Homo sapiens: one gene and its partners. The protein of the gene in region 3 purifies or fractionates together with the protein of the main gene of each other region. This does not show direct contact. Each region holds a gene or a part of one and is shown on either strand. Other genes may lie near its edges. The genes, in order: SERPINB12, SERPINB7 and MOGAT3.

What was found.
Region 1: the proteins of MOGAT3 (region 3) and SERPINB12 purify together in Homo sapiens (affinity purification with mass spectrometry; one large-scale study listed by BioGRID and IntAct). This does not show direct contact.
Region 2: the proteins of MOGAT3 (region 3) and SERPINB7 purify together in Homo sapiens (affinity purification with mass spectrometry; one large-scale study listed by BioGRID and IntAct). This does not show direct contact.

What each region holds. Positions count from the first base shown.
Region 1 is NC_000018.10:63,566,358-63,569,965, forward strand, and holds the end of SERPINB12 (serpin B12), read left to right. Parts: intron 1-249; coding exon 250-654; 3' UTR 655-2,972; downstream 2,973-3,608. UniProt on the Homo sapiens protein: Inhibits trypsin and plasmin, but not thrombin, coagulation factor Xa, or urokinase-type plasminogen activator. May play a role in cell differentiation.
Region 2 is NC_000018.10:63,781,899-63,785,545, reverse strand, and holds part of SERPINB7 (serpin B7), read right to left. Parts: intron 3,192-3,647; 5' UTR 3,174-3,191; coding exon 3,006-3,173; intron 1-3,005. UniProt on the Homo sapiens protein: Might function as an inhibitor of Lys-specific proteases. Might influence the maturation of megakaryocytes via its action as a serpin.
Region 3 is NC_000007.14:101,198,190-101,202,523, reverse strand, and holds the start of MOGAT3 (2-acylglycerol O-acyltransferase 3), read left to right. Parts: upstream 1-1,487; 5' UTR 1,488-1,669; coding exon 1,670-1,778; intron 1,779-2,008; coding exon 2,009-2,116; intron 2,117-2,219; coding exon 2,220-2,290; intron 2,291-3,693; coding exon 3,694-3,898; intron 3,899-4,158; coding exon 4,159-4,333; intron 4,334-4,334. UniProt on the Homo sapiens protein: Catalyzes the formation of diacylglycerol from 2-monoacylglycerol and fatty acyl-CoA. Also able to catalyze the terminal step in triacylglycerol synthesis by using diacylglycerol and fatty acyl-CoA as substrates.

The DNA of each region.
Region 1 (3,608 bases), on a different chromosome or scaffold from region 3:
TTGCTGTGCTTTGAACACTTGTCTCTCAAACACCAGAGCACACTGGAACCTGAGTTGTCCCCTAACTTCTTCTAAAGAGGAAAGATATTTGCTTGAAGTTTTAAATGAAATCAGACTATTCTCTAGCTTAGGGAAAGGTCTTGAAGGTTGTCACTGCCCACTGAAAGGGACTCAGGCACCTTGAAGTAATTGGGGCATTCTTTGTGGTCCCATAATCTGATGCTAAATATTATTTCCTTCCTCTTGTAGCTTGAAAGGAAAATCACCTATGAAAAAATGGTGGCCTGGAGCAGCTCAGAAAACATGTCAGAAGAATCGGTGGTCCTGTCCTTCCCCCGGTTCACCCTGGAAGACAGCTATGATCTCAATTCCATTTTACAAGACATGGGCATTACGGATATCTTTGATGAAACGAGGGCTGATCTTACTGGAATCTCTCCAAGTCCCAATTTGTACTTGTCAAAAATTATCCACAAAACCTTTGTGGAGGTGGATGAAAACGGTACCCAGGCAGCTGCAGCCACTGGGGCTGTTGTCTCGGAAAGGTCACTACGATCTTGGGTGGAGTTTAATGCCAACCACCCTTTTCTCTTTTTCATTAGACACAACAAAACCCAAACCATTCTCTTTTATGGCAGGGTCTGCTCTCCTTAAAAGGGGAGCAGTGTCTAGTACTTTGGAGCTGGAGGAAAATATCAATACAATCTTCCCCTGGCATAAGATGGGCATTTGAGTTTTTGGTAATATCTAAAGCATCTCCTTCATCCTCCAGCCATCGGCTTGTGCTTATCTTGATCTTTCTGTCACCCTGTAGCTTATTTTCATCTGAGTCTGTTAGTATTGAAGGGCTGTTGTTCTCTACCCTAAACTTTCAAGCATATAAATTCACCCTCTGTGACCTGAAGGTCAACACAATTCAGAACAGTACCTACCTCCTTTTGAAGGAATCCTAAAAGTTCAGGTCATTAGACCATTTCTAAGAGATGGCAAACTCAGAAGCCACTTTAACATGGGCAGCAAGAGAACATGTTTGACTGGAACGTGTTTGGAAACTCAGCTCTGTTTCTGGGGTAGTTTGACCGGAACGTGTTTGGAAACTCAGCTCTGTTTCTGGGATAGTTATGATTGTGGTCATCACTGGGCGAGATGCCCTGTTTCTTCCTTTGACAGCTACTGCATGGAAGATGTCCTGTGAGGTCTTTTCACCTAGGACAAGGCAGGGCTTGGGCGTATTTAAGTGATAGCTCAAAGATGTGTGACTGCCCCAACCAGCACTCATTTTGCACAGAGCAGGGGAATGATATTTGTCTTGTGATTTTGACACTGACCCAGGAAAGTGGCTAGTGGATTTAGAGGAGGTTTATCTCAGTTTTCCTTATTGAGTCCCCCAACATTATCATCAAACACTTCCCTCTGTCTCTCCTCCCCCTAGCTCCAAGAATTCCCACCTGTGGCTAGCTCCTTTTATGCACCCAGCACAGGCAGGTGTCAAGAGAAGTGCTGCTGGCATTGTGGACGGCTGGCCTCCGTATGCCCCTCTCTCTGCCTTCTGGCCACGTGGAGGCTGGCCTCTGTGTGCCCCTCTCTCTGCCTTCTGGCCACGTGGAGGCTGGCCTCCGTGTGCCCCTCTCTCTGCCTTCTGGCCACGTGGACTTTTGTGTCTTCCGAGAGGTCTCATGCCAGACCACATGGTGACAACAGGCTTGAGCCTGGGCATGGTGTCCATAGCAATGCTTGTTGGCTGGGCATGATGGCTCATGCCTGCAATCCCAGCACTTCTTGGGAGGCCGAGTCAGGTGGATCACTTGAGTCCAGGAGTTCGAGACCAGCCTGGGCAACATATTGAGACCCTGACTCTACAAAAAATACAGAAATTAGCCGGGCGTGGTGGTGTGCACCTATAGTCCCAGCTACTCGGGAGGCTGAGGTGGGAAGATCACTTGAACCCAGGGGATGGAGGCTGCAGTAAGCTGAGATGGCGCCACTGCACTCCAGCCTGGGTGACAGAGCGAAACCCTGTCTCAAAAAACAAACAAACAAAAAACCCAAAAAGCCAAAACAAAACCTGAAACCCTTGTCAAGAAGGCCATTGGGCTCATCTCAAGCTCTAGTCTACTGAAGGCCTGACCTCTGAGTGTTCCTACTCGCGGACTCAGGGCCTCTGTTCTCTGGTGTGGTAATCTGAGTTCCTAATTTCTATCTTAGCTGAATGTTCTGCCATGACCACTGACACGTCCAACTCACATCTCTTTGGAGTCAGTCTCTTTCCTATCGAGGTGGGTTTCAGGTCTTGCTTGCGGCTCAGTTTCCTTGGCCCACCTTGTGGCTGTCCTCCTCCCAGCTGCCACCAGTCGTTCAGTGTGGCCACGCAGTTTTTTTGCAGAAGGCAGGTGAACCACACCTGCTCCCATGCTAGCCTCCTCTTCCTTTTCTCACCTACCCCAGTGATTTCTTTGTGCTCTGAGAGACAAGTTCCATGTTCTCCATACAACCTTCTCATTGTTGAAGCTCACTTACGACCTAAAACAATTTGACGTTGGTAACGTGAGGCAGTTTGAGGCAGTGCCCTATCCAGAATGCATGTCCCATGGGTCAAATTAATTTCAGATAACCAAAAACTTCATGTCCCCTGTGGTTCCTTTTGGGGTTGACGTTTTGGGGGCTGTTTCCATGTCTGACTTGGCACCACTGCCCGACACGTAGCTGGAAACCATGACCTATATATAGGCCTGCACTGCCCGGCATTTCTTTTGTTCTTATTCTTTTACTTGGTAAACACATTTTTTTTTCATTTACATCGGGATTTCTCAGATTTTGAAGCATGAGAGGGAGAATGTATCTATTTACAATAATGAGGAAAATTAAGAATCTTAAATCTTTATGTAAATCAGTAAACATTCTTTACTAACCTTTGATTTATTAAGAAGTTTCTTCTGAATGAATAAAGCACTTTTGTTATTAGTTAAAATATATACGATGTGTTGCCAACTGATTTTTTTAGGGATATAAATTTAACTTCAAACTGTTTCATCCAAAAATATAAAAATACATAATCTATGAAACTAACAATTCATCTCAGTTACACAGGAAAAATACATCTTGCCCCAGTAATAGTTTCTCCCAGCTTTCCATCATAATTACATATGAAGGCATATAAAAAAGATGAAAACTGACAATGCTAAAACCAGAGTGATAGCCAGCTGATCATCAGAATATAGAAGACATTTCTGCCGACTACAGGTTTTTCTTTTTTTTTTGTTTGAGATGTAGTCTTGCACTGTTGCCCAGGCTGGAGTGCAGTGGTGCAATCTTGGCTTACTGCAACCTCTGCCTCCTGGGTTCAAGTGATTCTTAAGCCTCAGCCTGCTGAGTAGCGGGATTACAGGCGCCCGCCACCACGCCCAGCTAATTTTTGTATTTTTAGTAGAGAGGGGGTTTCACCATGTTGGCCAGGCTGGTCCTGAACTCCTGACTTCAAGTGATCCACCTGCCTTGGCCTCCCAAAGTGCTGGGATTACAAGCTTGAGCCACCGTGCCTGGTCCCTGCTGACTACAAGTTAACGAGGCTGGGCAGTGAGGCATTGTTGAGGGGTCACCTGCATCTCATT
Region 2 (3,647 bases), on a different chromosome or scaffold from region 3:
TAATAGAGTAAATGAGCCAGAGTTTCATGAGGAATAGCTGAGCTCCTTTTGGAGCTAAGATAACTCAAGACAAGCCCAGAACGTCTTGTCAGAAAGCAAAAATATTTTAAAGTTATTGGGAAGGATTGTTTAAAAAGATTGGGTTAAAGAGATATCTACTGGCGAAGCTATGACACTTTGAGCATCAAAAAGAAAAAGAAACACAGATCCATGGGAATGCTTAAAAGAGACACACAGATGGAAGCCATAAATTGAGCCGGGATTCATTTAAAATAGAAATGTGTGATTTATGGTGACAAGGGTCGAGTGTAGTAATGAGAAACCAACTGAAGCAGGGGAGAAGCTGAAAATTAATTTCCTAGAAGACATTTACAGAGGATTAAAAATGTGTGCAGATAAATTAGATGAATGTTTTTGTGTCTGTAGTTGCCTTTTCTCCTCTTACATGTTTCTTCATGCAAGATCATAATAGTAAGAGTTATAAAAAGTCACACATGAGAGTAATTGATGAGGCAGTAAAGAGTACAGAGCAAACTCCAGCAGAACAGCAGCTCTCTCAGTTCACCATGACTCATGAGCTGTTGACCCTGGCCCACCAGGCATGAGGTGCAGGGCAAGGAGACTTCAGAAGGTGTACCAGACAGGAGCTGAAAGATTGCTCCTGACATGAAAGCACACAGTAGGTAAGAGCCGTGTGTCTTCTGTTGCATTAAAATCAAGCTTTAGTCATAGGCATGGTGCCTGCACATCATTGTCTAACACATTGAACAGTGACAACTGTAAGGTTTTTTTCTTTATTTGTTTTATCATCAAATCAGCATCCTCCGTGCACAGGTGAGGACACTAGTGCCCACAGAGATGACATGATTTTCCCAAGGTCAGATCTTCGACCCAATCTTCTAACTCCCAGACCAAGGCTATGTTTCCATGATACCAAATCATCTCACTTGGTTCTGAAACATTATGCATTTTTATGAATGAATAAATTTTTATTTGTTGAATGTTTTTCAAGGGCTTTATATTTATTTATCAAAATACCCACTTTAAAATACTGAAGCTTCACAGTGATGTACTTTGAGCTATATTTCAGTTTGGTGGCTTCAGAGCAGTTCTCAACTGGAGACTGATTTTGCTTTTGAGGGCATTCTTTGGAAATATCTGGAAATGTTTTTGGTTGTCATGATGGGGGAGGGGTATGCTGCGGGTAGTTGTTGATGAGAGGCCAGGAATGCTGCTAAATGATGCATAGGACAGCCCCTCACAACAAAGATTTATCCAGCCAAAAATGTCAATAGTGCCAAAGTTGAGAAAACCAGTTGTAGAAGATCATCCTGAGTTTGAATCTCAGGTCCGCCATCTACCAGCACACAGTATGGTCACCCCTCCATAAAATCAGGGTAATATTCCCACTTCAGTGTGTCAATGTGAATATCAAATAAGATCATATTCTTAGGGCTTATCCCAGATCCTGAACACTGATTAAGTTCTCAGCAGATAGTTGTTACTATCATCTCATTAAAGTGTTGTATCCTATGTACTAGGTTGTAAACCGCTCTAGCGCTTGAAAAAAACAGCAGTCTAAGACTCTGTAGTTGTTCTCTAGCAATTAATATTTACTGAGCTATTCAGATAAAGGAAGGAATTATTCTAGCTTAAATTATCCCATAAATGGTTTTCCATATGACCTGAGGTATGACAGGTTACAACAGGCACCAGATTCCTCTGGCAAGCCCTTCAGAACTAAAATAATGGGAGGAATAGTGGGGCAAGAGGTGGGCACAGGGAGGTGGGGGCAGAAAGGGACGACATCAAGGCCTCTGCATGCAGCCTGGACCTGGCATCTCACCTGCTGTTGAGCTACTGAGTTTCAGTGGCAATTTTCTGAGAAGGGAGGGAAACGACCATTCCACTTCCCTATAAAGTGCTCCCAGAGCTGTGTGCACGGGTGTGTTAATAAGCACTCCCTGAAGGTGGCGGTGAAGGTGGTGATGATGACAATGTGAGGACTATTCAGGTAGGCTGCTATTATCTGGAATGTACTATGATGTTTTTGTGCCCCGGTAACCAGTGCTTAAACTGGGATGTCATTGGAATCTCCTTCTAACTCTCCTATCTCAACTGTATCTACTCAGGCAGTGGTTTTCAACCCTTCATGTGCACCTGGAGAGCTCATTAAAACCCAGAGTGCTGGGTCCAACACCCATAGTTTCTGATTCAGTACTTCTGGGGTAGAGCCCAAGCATTTGCATTTCTTTCTTTCTTTCTTTCTTTCTTTCTTTCTTTCTTTCTTTCTTTCTTTCTTTCTTTCTTTCTCTCTCTCTCTCTCTCTCTCTCTCTCTCTCTCTCTCTCTCTCTCTCTTTCTTTCTTTCTTTATTTTCTTTTTGTTTTGTTTGATCGTTTGTTTTCTGAGACGGAGTCTCGCTCTGTCGCCCAGGCTGGACTGCAGTAGCGCTATCTCGGCTCACTGCAAACTCCACCTCCCGGGTTCATGCCATTCTCCTGCCTCAGCCTCCCGAGTAGCTGGGACTACAGGCGCCCGCCACCATGCCCGGCTAATTTTTTGTATTTTTAGTAGAGACGGGGTTTCACCGTGTTAGCCAGGATGGTCTCGATCTCCTGACCTCGTGATCCGCCCGCCTCGGCCTCCCAAAGTGCTGGGATTACAGGCATGAGCCACCGCGCCCGGCCAGCATTTGCATTTCTAACAAGTTCTCCAGGCGGTGCTGATGATCCTGGTCTGGGAAACACACTTTGAGAACCACTGCACTGAGGGAAAACATCAAAGCTGCAGTACTTGGAATATTTCTGCTGCCTCTTGGCTCAAAAACAAGTACTGCAAGCTGTGTGCTTTCTTCACACCCAAAGAGGGCCTCGTGGAGATGTGTGAAGATGTGACACCTTGTGCCTCATGATGACCTCCATTAACATGGGGACCATTGCAACGAAATGTTCTCGTGGGAAAAACAATTTGTCCCAGTGATTAACTGCAAAAGCTGAGACTGACCTTATCAATCTGAGAGAGGGAGTCATCTTGAGCGCCCAAGCGGACCAGGGCCAGGGCAGCGAAGAGGCTCAGAGAGGAAAAGAACACATTTCCATTTCCTTGATTGTCATCCATCTCTCTGAACAGGTTGAAGCAAAACTCTGCATTTGCTGCAGCAAGGGAGGCCATTGCAAAATGGAGTGCAGCCTAGAGGACAATGAGAAAATGAAATTAGTTCCCGGTACATTTTCTAGGAATATTATATTTTTAGATTTATTTATTTTTTATAATTTAAAGCTTCATTTTTTTTCAGCCTTGGAGGTAATCATCAAATAACTCTAACAAAAAGGGAAAAGTTCCCTTGGCCCAGTATCCTTGTCACTAATACCCTAAAACTATCTCTTCTCGTTGGTGGACATTTCTGTCCTCAGTGGCCTGTGAGTGGCCTGTTTCCAACCCCCAAGCAGACACATTCATGGGGCTCACTATTTCTCAAATCACCCCAGATTTCTGAACTGAAATAGAGCAAAAGTAAATATTACAATATTAGACAGTCTATTTGAGGCACTACAGCCTTTGCTTTCTAAACCATCTGTAATTCAATACAATGTTAAATTTTTGAGGTTTAACACATCATTTTTAACCCATTCTTTCCATTAAGGC
Region 3 (4,334 bases):
GGCGCTGGAGGCAAAACCCGGACAACTGAGCTTGCCGATTCGGAATCAGAAGAGATTGGTTAAGTCAGCTCTGGAACTCGGGTGAGGACCCGAGCGTGACCCGGTGGGGACGCCCCAGGGCTGCCGGGCCGGGGAGGAGGAGAGTGGCGCCACCCGCGGACCCCGGGGCCAGGAGTCAGCCGCGCCATGCTCTCCTGCGGCCTCCCTAGTGCCTGTCTTCTCCAGGGAGAATGAGCTCTTCCAGCAGTTCCCGAACCCGCAGAGCTCGTGGGTGCAGAGGACGCAGGAGGCTCTGCGTCCGCTGCTAAGCGTGGCCCTGCAGCTGTTCCTGGGCCGCCGGGGCCTCCCGCTGCCCTTCCGCGCGCCCATCCGCACCGTAGGTGAGCCCCGGCCTCCGCCCCGCGATCCTGGCCCAGGGCCCGCTCCCTCCCCGTCCCGGGTTGGGGCCACCCAGACTGGCCTTTGGCCACCGCGCCAGCCCTGAACTCTGTTCCCGCCTATCCCCAAGGAGGAAAAGAGGAGGAGAACCGGGGATCCCAGCCCAGATCGCCTCCCGTCCCGCCCGCAGTGGGGTCGGCGATTCCCGTGCAGCAGAGCCCCCCGCCCAGTCCGGCCCAGGTGGACACGCTGCAAGCGCGCTACGTGGGGCGACTCACGCAGCTCTTCGAGGAGCACCAGGCGCGCTATGGTGTCCCCGCCGACAGACACCTGGTCCTCACGGAGGCGCGCCCCACCGCCTGGCCTCGCCTGTCCGCTGGGTGACTGCAGGTGGGGAAGTGAAATTAAAGACTGGCGGCAGGGCACGGTGGCTCACGCCTGTGATTCCAGCACTTTGGGAGGCCGAGGCGGGTGGATCACTTGAGGTCAGGAGTTCGAGACCAGCCTGGCCATCATGGTGAAACCCCATCTCTATTAAAAATCCAAAAAAAAAAAAAAAAAAAATTAGCCAGACGTGGTGGCGCGCCTGTAATCCTAGCTACTCGGGAGGCTGAGGCAGGAGAATCGTTTGAACCCGGGAGGCGGAGGTTGCAGTGAGCCGAGATCGTGCCACTGCTCTCCAGCCTGGGTGACCGAGACGTGTGAAAAAAAAAGAAAAAAAAGAAAAGAAAAGAAAAAGAAAAAAATTAAAGTGGGAAACAGACCTGCAGCCTGTGTGTGTTTGTGCATGGCGGGGGAGGTCCAGGCAGGGGTGGTGACCTTGACATTCCTGGAGATGCCCCGGACCAGGCCCTGCCCCCACCCCGACTGGAGGTCAAATAGTCTCAGCAGGGCTTCTGGCCCCTTCCAGCACCTGGGACCCAGTGGGTGGGGCTAGCCAGATCACTCTTGTCCACTCCAACATCAATTCCTGAGGCACTCGGGTGTCACCTCTCCCTTGCACACCCCTTACGCCTCCCAGCCCCACCCAGCAGCCAGCCCAGACTGGTGACTGACAGGAAGTTCAAAGATCAGGCTGAGAAAAAACCCAGAGACATCTGGGGCTCTGGATCCAAAGATCTCCCCACTCACACACCTACGGACACACGCTACTCTGGGAGGTGATTTGCGACTTAGCCAGGCCCCCAAAGCTGGGCTCCTGTAGGGAGAAAGTCTGCCCAGGTCCACATCCAAGCCTTCATCGTTTGTCCTCCGGGTTCTGGGATCCTGCTGGAAGAGGGGAGCTTCTGCAATGGGAGTTGCCACAACCCTGCAGCCCCCAACCACTTCCAAAACCTTGCAGAAGCAGCATCTAGAAGCAGTGGGCGCCTACCAATATGTGCTCACTTTCCTCTTCATGGGTGAGAGCTGGGGAGGCGTGGGTGCCTGGGGTCTGCCAGGGGAGTAGGGCTTGGAGGGAGAGTGGCTGGGCTGCTGGCTTGCATGCCTGAGGACAGTGACCAGGTGACTGGTCTGGGAGAGGGCCAGAGGAGAGAGCTGGTTGTTCTGAAGGGGAGGAAGGGAAGGGAGCAGCTGGAGGGAATGATGGAGTTTCAGAAGTGAACTCTTTTCTTTCTCTCCCTTCCCCCAGGCCCTTTCTTCTCCCTTCTTGTCTTTGTCCTCCTCTTCACGTCACTCTGGCCCTTCTCTGTTTTTTACTTGGTGTGGCTCTATGTGGACTGGGACACACCCAACCAAGGTGAGCTCCGGATGGGGGCCCAGGTAGCCAGAGATGGTGGGGACATGGGGGGTGAGGGGAGGTGACTCCGGGGGTTCGTCCACCAGTATCTCATTGTCCGCAGGTGGAAGGCGTTCGGAGTGGATAAGGAACCGGGCAATTTGGAGACAACTAAGGGATTATTATCCTGTCAAGGTGATGGGTCACCCTGCAGAAAAACTGCTTCCTACCTCTCCCCATCTCCCTCCCACACCTAGGAGCCCTTCCTTGTGCTGGGGCCTGAGCTCCCCGCTGCCTAAGCTCAGGCAGTGGGACAGGGAATGGATTTTTTTTTTTTTTTAGACTGAGTCTCCTGTCACCGAGGCTGGAGTGCAGTGGTGCAATCTCAGCTCATTGCAACCTCCGCCTCCTAGGTTCAAGCTATTCTCATGCCTCAGCCTCCCTAGTAGCTGGGATTATAGGTGCCCGCCACCATGCCTGGCTAATTTTTGTAGTTTAGTAGAGACAGGGTTTCAACATGTTGGCCAGGCTGGTCTCAAACTCCTGGCCTCAAGTGATCCAGCCACCTCGGCCTCCCAAAGTGCTGGGATTACAGCCTTGAGCCACCGCGCCCGGCCTGGGAGTGGATGATGTTCAAGAGCGGGGCCTTGGTGGGGCACCATGGCTCATGCCTGTAATCCAAGCACTTTGGGAGGCCGAGGTGGGAGGATTGCTTGAGCCCAGGAGTTGGAGGCTGTAGTGAGCCATGATTGCGCCACTGTACTCCAGCCTGAGCAACAGAGTGAGACCGTCTCTAAAAAAAAAAAAAAAAAAAGGCGGTTGTGGTGGCTCAAGCCTTTAATCCCAGCACTTTGGGAGGCTGAGGTGGGTGGATCACCTAAGGTCAGGAGTTCGAGACCAGCCTGACCAACATGGAGAAACCCCATCTCTACTAAAAATACCAAACAAATTAGCCGGACATGGTGGCACATGCCTGTAATCCCAGCTACTCTGGAGGCTGAGGCAGGAGAATTGCTTGAACCAGGGAGGCGGAGGTTGTGGTGAGCTGAGATGATGCCATTGCACTCCAGCCTAGGCAACAGGAGCAAAACTCTGCCTCAAAAAAAGAAAAGAAAAAAAGAGAGAGTGGGTGAGGTGGCTTACGCCTGTAATCCCAGCACTGTGGGAGGCCAAGGCAGGCAGATCACGAGGTCAGGAGTTCAAGACCAACCTGGCCAATATGGTGAAACTGCGTCTCTACTAAAAATACAAAAATTAGCTGGGCATAGTTTCGCATGCCTGTAATCCCAGCTACTCGGGAGGCTGAGGCAGGAGGATAGCTTGAACCGGGACCAAGAGGCGGAGGTTGCAGTGAGCCGAGATCGTGCCACTGCACTTCAGCCTGGGCTACAGAGCAAGACTCCATCTCAAAAAAAAAAAAAAAAAAAACCTGGGCCCTTAACCCTATCCTAAGAACCTTTAACTCGGAACTCTGCTGGGGTGGCCCTTGACCCTATCCTAAGAACCTTTAACTCGGAACTCTGTTGGGGTGGAGGGCCCCTCTTTTCAGCCGGTGTCTTGCCTTCCATCCTCCCTTCATCCTGCTCAACACCCCGAAGCTGGTGAAAACAGCAGAGCTGCCCCCGGATCGGAACTACGTGCTGGGCGCCCACCCTCATGGGATCATGTGTACAGGCTTCCTCTGTAATTTCTCCACCGAGAGCAATGGCTTCTCCCAGCTCTTCCCGGGGCTCCGGCCCTGGTTAGCCGTGCTGGCTGGCCTCTTCTACCTCCCGGTCTATCGCGACTACATCATGTCCTTTGGTGAGCCGAATGGGAGGAGGAGAACGGGAGGAGACTCCTGACCAGATGTTCCCCAGCCCCTCTGGGACCACCCCCCCCCATAATAAGTCCCCCACCCAGGACAGGGGCCAGCCTGAGCACTGCCCAGACTTGCAGTGAGCATTTGGGTAGGTTCCCCGCCTTGGAGATGGGGGTAGGGGGCTTGGAACTAAAGGCTGGGTGAGGGGCGGGGGTGCCGTGGAGGCAGATGGGAACTACTTTCCACCTCCTCCTGCCCACAGGACTCTGTCCGGTGAGCCGCCAGAGCCTGGACTTCATCCTGTCCCAGCCCCAGCTCGGGCAGGCCGTGGTCATCATGGTGGGGGGTGCGCACGAGGCCCTGTATTCAGTCCCCGGGGAGCACTGCCTTACGCTCCAGAAGCGCAAAGGCTTCGTGCGCCTGGCGCTGAGGCACGGG